2 separate regions of the Homo sapiens genome follow, and region 2 is linked to region 1. Evidence: fine-mapped expression QTL. A gene starts in region 1. The other region holds a variant in brackets. All regions are shown on one strand. Distances are between the middles of the regions.

Region 1 (4,395 bases):
TGGGAGGCCGGTTGGATCACCTGACATTGGGAGTTAGAGACCAGCCTTAGCAACATGGAGAAACCCCGTCTCTAATAAAAATACAAAATTAGCCGGGCATGGTGCCGCACACCTGTAATCCCAGCTACTTGGGAGGCTGAGGCAGGAGAATTGCTTGAACCCGGGAGGCGGAGGTTGCAGTGAGCCGAGATTGTGCCATTGCATTCCAGCCTGAGCAACAAGAGTGAAACTCTGTCTCAAAAAAAAAAAAAAAAAAAAAAGGAAAAGAAAATTAATCCTTTATCCTTTATCACAAACCCTTGTAGCAGAGCACATCTCCCCATGATCTTTTTAAAATCCTATATATACGAGCATGGTACCTAGGATGGATGTGTTCCTCCTCTTACTTTTGGGAACACCCTACTCTGTCAGTGGAGCAGCTGTGCTTTCACCACTTTACTTTCTTAATAAAAAGAAAGTGCTTTTGCTTTGCACTGCGGACTCGCCCTGACTTCTTTCTTGCTTGAGATCCAAGAACCCTCTCTTGGGGTCTGGATCTCTTTCCTGTAACAGCAGTCCCAAGATCCTAATAGTTTATGTGTAGTTCACAGAATGCATGTCACCTAAGTGAGTGGCTGCACTGTCCCAAGATGAGATGTCCCTTCAATGTAGATACGGCATATGGATGTCCGCCCACCATCTCCACTGAATGTTATCATCATGGCTGGTGCTACTCACCTGTAAAGTCAAACCACTTAACCAGATATGGCTTCCTTGATCCTTTGCAGAACTAGTCAAGTCATATGTAAACAGCAGATTTGAGAGAGAATTTAAAAGAAACTCATTGTGTTTTCTCTTAAAGTTTTGCATACTAAGTTTGCTTTGGATTACATACTTCATTTGCAAACCCATTTATTCACACTAACAAAGGCAGGGGCAACAGAAGAAAGTCTCTCTGAGTCCCTCTGCCAACAGCAAATTGTTGATCTTGCCTTCAGATCAACATCTCAAGAGGGGACTTTCCTCGGAAGCCCTCAAAGACCAACACAAAGAAAACAAAGGAAAAGGGAATTTGCGACTGTGAATCAGAGTCTCCACCAAAATCCTCAGTCATCCACACTGACAAACAGCTCCAGTAAACTGCTGGCCACCCTTCACTAGACATCACTTCCCAAAGCGAGGCCCACTCCTTTCAGCCCTGATGCCACTGCTGCTGGCTCACTGTTACACAGAGCTGGTGGAGGGGCAGCCTGGCTCGCCCTCAGCCGGGATGCTCAAGTCCTCCCACTGGGTCGGGGAGCTAACTCGTAAACAATCGCATCCCTGTAGAGAATGAAAGGAAAAGTGCCAGTCACCAGTGCAGAAAGGAGGGAGGCAAGCGGGGGTGGTGGGGTGGTGGGTGGATGTAACATAGCTAGAGAATAATGGAGTGTTTGAATTCTGCTGAGGCAGAGTGAGCCCTTGGGCCTCCCTTGGGTCTCTGAAAAGTGCGTACTTGATTAAATGCCTGAAATTTCCATCTCAGTATCTGGAGGGCTGCATTTCTGAAGTGCTCCTCTGCAGCAGCCTTGCATACCTTTGGCATGTAATTGTGATGTGGGTGTGGATAGTGTATGTGCCAGAGACTCTGTCCATTCTGACTCCTTCTTTCCTAGTGCCCATCGGAGGGGTACTGAAACGAGGATGTGATATTCCAAGATCAGAAAGGAAGGAAAGAAGTAATCCGAGTGACCATGGGGCCATGGGAATACCACCCTACCAAAACCCTGAGCTGACACACCCAGATAATCCTAAACTTCAGCCTGACTTCTATATCAAAAGGTTAATAAAATCTAAGCTGCCCACCATGTGGACAGCTTTTCCAAGGCAGCTGAATATCCAGGCTTCCCAAGAGAGAGCTAGTGTGACACAGCACGATAATGCTAGCCACACTCACCACAGCCAGACTCACCGCAGCTTTCTGCTTCTGCCGAACCTCAAGGGCTGCATCCAGCACTTTAGTAAATGAGAAATGCCTGCCCCCTCCAGCCCTGATTCAGGGCCAGTGTCAGGCGGGCACTGGAGGAATGGAGATAATGTGGCGGCATGGTGCATTCATATTTTTGCAGTCTCTAAACTAGAAGTACTATTTTTACATGTCTGTGACATCAGCATGCCCTTCCCCCAGAGCAGTCTGCACCATGGTTTAAACCCAGCCAAAGGTGAGCTTCTTGAGATTCACTTGCAGGAGTCCTGGTTCCAGTGCTATCTGCTTGAAACATTTTCTTTCTTCTCCAAGTAGCATTACATTTGCACTTGGACACACACACAAAACACACACACACACACACACACACACACACAACCTCAGCTATAACCTGCTCTGTTTCCCAGATCAGATGCCCTGATTCTTACCTAAAGAGCTTGTAGGCCGAGGGCTGTACCTCTCTCCACACTCGCTCAGTGCTGTCCCAGGGGAAGCAGAATCCACTTGGTGTCTTCTTCTCAGAGTAGCCCGGCTCTCTGAACCTCCAGGCTACTGCAGCTCTGAGTGGGGAGAGGGACGGGCCGTGGCATGCACATCAGGTTGCTGGCCTGCCTCCAGATACCATGCCACAGAGCTGGCTACCCGTCCCTAGGGCTCTGTGGGAAATCGAGGTGGGGGGGGTGTAGGCTGGGGGAGCCAAGAATGTCAGCCTCTAGGTCTATCTCCGGTCCTTGTTTATCAGTAGAGGGGACCTGCCTTTAGACAACCGCCCACTCCCACACCACCCGCAGGGATGCACACAGCTCTAAGCAACCCCTACTCTGGACAGCCAGCAGCAGGCCCAGGAACACAGAGCCATTGGCCAGCCAGGAGGGAGGTAGAGACAGAAGACGGTGGCAGCAGCTACCCTGGGTGTTATTTTAACGTGGTTTGTCTTGGGGCAAATGTGTGAGCCGAATGGACTTCTGGCCCGTCTGAGCAGAATCCTGTTTATTTTGAGGCCTGAGTTGCCAGGGAAACAGCAGGTCGTGGCTCGGAGACTCTCCTCTGGAGTCAGAAGGCTGCTGGATGAAAGGGAGGCCTTTTCTGTTCTGTCATCTGGCATCCCTGCATGGGGTGTAGGTGTCTGTGTGTGGCAACGTGTATGTGTGCGTGTGTGTGTCTGTCTGTGCCATCCCCAGAGCCAAGCCCTACAAATGGCATTTTACGAAGTCAATCGAGGCAAAAGCCATCCAGGTTGGGACTGGCGAGGGGCTGCAGAGGTGGCAGCTCTGTCCTCCCTCTCCACTGTTCAAGCCTGTCCCCGTTGGATGAGGTGAATCCTCAGGTGAGCTCAACTTCAGGGGTGGGAAATTCTTCAATGGGCCATGGACATCCTCTTTAGACTTCTGGCCAGGACAGGGTAAGGAAGGGAGGGAGCTGTCTGGACAAATAACTCTTTGGCTAGAAGGTGGGGAATAAGGTGGACTGAAAGGATATGGATCAAGAGCTGTCTTTGAAGAAACCAAATGAAAACATGATTAATAGTTTCCAATAATTGAAGAGTCGCTCCTGCTTATGCAGGCGTTTGAGCCCAGAAGGCATGAGTGTGTGTGTGTGTGTGTGTGCACGCATGCACTCCCATGTATGTACACAAGCCTGCTCACCTGATGATTCAGGTAGAGAGGTACAGATCGACCTGTCAGAACTAGAAATATGCTCTCCAGTCTCTACCTCCTCTGGGTAGTTGCTTAGGTGTAGAGAGGATGGAGTTGCAGTTTGTTCCCCACACTCCCCACAGAGCATGGGGGTGTGGGGAAGCCATCCATGTGCCTTCTGAAGGGATGAGCCTTGGAGAAGGAGCTCGTGTCCTGTACTAAAGAGCTAGAGGCTCAATCATCACAGAACTCCAATCACGGATAAGCAGCAGCTCCCAAAAGGGACTTGAATATACAGAAAATGTTGATTTCTTGAGACCCTATTAATTGGAACCCTCATGAACTACCACTTCTACACCTGCAAAGGATACTGATAATTTGCTTTAAAACATAATAATCTTCCTGAGTATCTGCAAGTTTCCAAAGGGCCTTCTGAATCCTTAAAGAAAATATTTTGGACAATGGTTTTCCAAGTATTAAAGAATCATTATGCTAGATGTAGTATGCATGTTAACCCTTTTTAACTACGTGAAATGATAGACTTGAAAGTTAGAAAATACCCTAAAAATCCTAAGGACAGAGATGCAGACTCAGAGACTCACTCAGGTGGTACCCTTAGTTAAAGTCCTCATTGTGACTAAAACCAGGTCTCCCTGCTTTAGGTTAACCCCGTGTTAACCTGCCTGCACTGTGTGGTTGGCCATTGTTGGGCAATTCAGCCCAAGGGCTCCAGATTCCCCCCCTCCTAGTGGAAATTAATGAGACTTTCCTACTCATATCTTCCCTGCAAACTCACAGGATTATCATGACAAT
Region 2 (4,395 bases), 64 kb before region 1:
CGATCTCCTGACCTCGTGATCCACCCGCCTCAGCCTCCCAAAGTGCTGGGATTACAGGCGTGAGCCACCACGCCCAGCCTTTAGTTTTGTTTTTAATCCCTGTCACTGTGTAAGCAATGTGGAATACCCATGAAGGAGGATATTTTGCAGAGTATATAAAGCCACTGAAGGTAGATGTGTAGACAGACACCTGCTAAGGTGATAATTGGATGTATCCTCAAACCCAGCATATACAAAACAGGCCTTGGCTTTGGTTCCAAATATGCTCTAAGTCCTTGCTGCCTGTGGCTATGAATGGCATCACCCAAAATCTTAATTCTTCCTTAGAGATATTAACTAAATTTTGTTAAGTCAAATATACATGTTAAATGTTAAAGGTAACTACTAAAAGAAAAGAAATAGAATGTATTTAGTCCAAGCGGCAACTGGTAGGCGTAAGGGGGATAAGGTGGAATAAATAAAACTGTGCTTATCTTCGTGACCAGCCTGACGAACATGGAGAAACCCCGTCTCTACTAAAAATACAAAATTAGCCGGGCATGGTGGCGCATGCCTGTAATCCCAGCTACTCAGGAGGCTGAGGCAGGAGAATCGCTTGAACCCGGGAGGCGGAGGTTGTGATGAGCTGAGATTGTGGCATTGCACTCCAGCCTGAGCAACAACAGCGAAACTCCGTCTCAAGAAAAACCAAAAAACGAAAAAAAAACAAAACCCTGTGCTATTCCAAAATAATCTAGAAAAAGAAAAAAAGAAAATAAAGTAAAAAAATTGCTCAGAATTAGGTGGCCAAAATAAATCCAAATATATGTATAATCACAATAAATGTAAATGTGCTAAATTTACTAGCTACTGTTTTTTTTTTAACTCCATCTGCACTCTGATTACAAGAGACACATTTAAAACATAATGACATAGAGAGGTTAAAAGCAAAAGAATGAAAAATAGATACCAGACAAATGTTAACAAAAAAATTGAAAACTCGGCTGGGCGCGGTGGCTCACGCCTGTAATCCCACCACTTTGGGAGGCCGAGGTGGGCGGATCACGAGGTAAGGAGATCGAGACCATCCTGGCTAACACAGTGAAACCCTGTCTCTACTAAAAATACAAAAAAATTAGCTGGGCATGGTGGTGGGCGCCTGTAGTCCCAGCTGCTGGGGAGGCTGAGGGAGGAAAATGGTGTGAACCCAGGAGGCGGAGCTTGCAGTGAGCTGAGATCGCGCCACTGCACTCCAGCCTGGGTGACAGAGCAAGACTCCGTCTCAAAAAAAAAAATTGAAAACTCGTGTGGCTATATTAATATCAGATAAAGTAGGTCTAAGGCAAAAAGAATGACTAAAGATAAAAGGGATTGCCACATAATAAGTGGATTAATTCAACAGAAAGATATACAAATTCCAAACATGTATATATCTAATGACATAGCCTCAAAATACATAAAACAAAAATTGACAAATATGTAAAGAGAAAGTGACAACTCCGCAATTATGGTGGGAGATTTTATAATACATTTCTGTCATAAATGATAGAGCAAACAGACACCAAATATTAATATGTAGAAGATTGAAATACACAACTAGTAAACTTAATTGATGAGTGTATAAAAGAACCTTGTACCCAACAATGAAGTGAACATCATTCTTATCAAAGATACATGGAGCATTTACGAAAATTGACCATGTACCAGGTCATAAGGCAAGACAACCCAAATAGAAAAATTTGTTTCATTCAGACTATTCTTTGGGCAGAATAGAAATCACTCCCACCTGTTCAGTTGGTGAAAATGCCCTTTCAGTTTTACCTTTTTAGTGTCTCCTAAAGCCATC[C/T]TCTTTTCTCCAGCCTCACTTCTGTTGCCTTAGCACAGACCCAGCACCTGTCTCACCTGGGCTGCTGCAGCAGGTCCCACCTTTCCAGCACTGCCTTCTTTCAATCCACTGTCAATTCTGCTGCTAGTGACCATTCTAACTCATCACTCCCCTGCTGTAGATCTTTGACTGGGTCATTGATTTCCCGTTGTCTTTCCAGATAAAACCCAGACTCCTGCCATGACCTGTGAGGCTCTCATCATTTGACCCCTTCTTAACCCTGTGACTTTTTCTCTTATTGGCCTCTTTTTATAGTCCCCCTACACCCTCATACTCACCCAGGTCTTAGCCCAAACATTGTGCTGCTGCCAACAGTATTTTTTCTCTCTCTCTTTTTCTCTTTCTCTTTCTCCCTCCCTCCCTTCCTCCCTCCTTCCCTCCTTTCCTCCACCCTTTCACCATGGTCTGACTAAGTCACACTCACCCTTCAAAAATTTAGCTGGATATTTCGGATATTTCCTCCTCGAGCAAGCCTTATTTGGACACATCCCCCAACCCTAACCTCCCTACTCTTTCTTAAAATTCACATATACCAGTTTAGGTGGGTTCATTCCCCTGTGCTCTCCCAACAGCAGACAGCATTTCCTTTACTTCACTGCAGCGCTGGGTGTAATTCCCATCTATATCCCCCTGCCTAAACTCTTCAGTGATTTCCCATTGCTCTGGGACAAAAACAAAAGCCTTGCTGTGGCCTGCAGGACTCTGGGAGGTTCAGCCCTTACTCCCCCTCTGCCTCATTTCCCATCACGTCTCCCTCCAAACTTGCCTTCCATTTTCTGATTCCCCCCACCCTAGGACCTTTGCCCATGCTGTTCCCTCTGGAGTGATGTTCCTCTCTTTCTCTCTACCCTACTCCCCTGGTTAACTCCTAATTTTTCTTCAAATTTTAGTTCAACTCTCAATTCCTCATGAAAGCCTTTCCTGTCTTCCCTGAACTGAGTCAGGTTCCTCCAGTTCTCATAGGACCATTTAACATTTCTTCATGGCTCTTACTACCAGTGTTTAATTACACATTCACTCTTGTGATTATTTAATGTCTCTTTTCATGACTGGACTGTCAGCTCCATGATAGTACAAACCAATTGGTCTTGCTCACAATGGTATCCCAGTGCCTAGCAAAATGCCTGACACCTGATGGGCATTTGATAAACATCTGTTGAATGGGCAAATGAATGTAATTTAACTACGTTTACTTCACTGACTCCTTCATTAGTCTCTGAGACCCTGGGACAGAAACTATGCCTTTTCTTTCTGTATCTAGCATTGAGCAAATACCTATGCATTATTAGTGTCCTGTGAATTCTTGTTGATTGAAGGGCCAGTCCTTTCTCAGGAGCCTCTTGTGGAACATCTTATCAGACTACCTAATTAGCAGGTGATGTCCTATAGGTATTGACAAAGAAGCTAAGCCAAGAGTCTAAATGTATTTTAATTGGGTTCAAATTAGGCCAGAATACCCTACCTTTGGTTAAAGGCAGGCTCAAACCCTGTCCTCATCTTGTAATAAATACTTCCTTATTTCTTTAAAGAAAATACTATGGAAACTAAGGATCTCAGAAAGGAAGTGATCAGCTCCTTTAGTCTCAAGTCTGAACTTATCTAACCAAGAAAAATATTTGTAGGGCCTGGAAAAAACATCCAGGCTTTTTTTATTTCTGCCACAGCGTGTTAGGCTGGCAGGGCCCCACCTTCCACTCCCTGGTGAAGGAAAGTTTGCCGAAGAAAGGGAGGCAGTGTGTTCTTTGCTTTCTATTTCTTTTGCTCCATGTTCCATGGTCTGTACTGGGTCTGAGGTAGGAGTGTAGCCATGGCTGATTGGCCTGGGCTAGCATCTCAGCATGCTGCCCCCAAACCAGTTCTGTTCCATGAGCTGAAATCTCATCTTCCGTGGTTGACAGTAAACTGTGGACTTGACTATGGGATGGACTTGACAATGGTGTGCAGGAGACAGCTCCCAGAAGCTCATGAAAGCCAATTATTAAATATTCAGGAATTTTACTATTATTAAACCATTAATATCTTGAAATCAACCCTGGTGAGAGTATTTATATCATAGAAATTGGCAAATGCCAGGGCTTTTAAAATTCTCCTTTTTTTTCCCCTCTGATAGCTGGTTTACCCAGCATACTGCTAAACTTGGGTTTGAATCCTGGTTGGACACTCACTAGTAAATGACTCATTCTCACAGTGCCCCAGTTTCCTCATCTGCAAAATGGGGCTGCATAACAGTAGCTACTGAACAGAGTCACTGTAATCTCAGCACTTGAGAACTTGTAAGCATTCGATAGATATTAGCTTGACTATCACCAGCTGTGTACCCTTTTGACACTTTTTTTTTTTTTTTGAGACAGAGTCTCGTTCTGTCGCCCAGGCTGAAGTGCAGTGGTGCGATCTCTGCTCACTGCAACCTCCACCTCCCGGGTTCAAGTGATTTCTCCAGCCTCAGCCTCCCAAGTAGCTGGGATTATAGGCACATACCACCACGTCCAACTAATTTTTGCATTCTTTTAGTAGAGACGGGGTTTCTACCA

Direction of the effects. Positions count from the first base shown, and alleles are read on the strand shown. Sizes are in standard deviations (SD) of each study's normalised expression.
As copies of T replace C in region 2, the expression in fibroblasts of the gene that starts at base 2,507 in region 1 goes up (moderate effect, 0.61 SD a copy in GENCORD).

The links. PIP is the estimated chance that this variant, and not a neighbour inherited with it, causes the effect. A credible set is the group of variants that fine-mapping cannot tell apart.
Region 2: its variant is the best candidate, but not a certain one, in a credible set for the expression of FGF1 in fibroblasts (GENCORD, PIP 0.89).

Annotation. Positions count from the first base shown.
Region 1 is chr5:142,683,584-142,687,978 of GRCh38, forward strand. It overlaps FGF1 (fibroblast growth factor 1), which reads right to left and starts at 2,507. Exons shown (of 4, transcript NM_000800.5): 1 at 2,374-2,507. RefSeq lists enhancers at 981-1,850, 2,950-2,975 and promoters at 2,453-3,316, 2,453-3,023.
Region 2 is chr5:142,619,155-142,623,549 of GRCh38, forward strand. The region is part of intron 1 of FGF1 (fibroblast growth factor 1); the gene reads right to left. Among named protein-coding and RNA genes, the nearest start is that of FGF1, 65 kb to the right of the region's middle. RefSeq lists a promoter at 2,143-3,167. The variant C/T (reference allele first, on the strand shown) is at 1,826.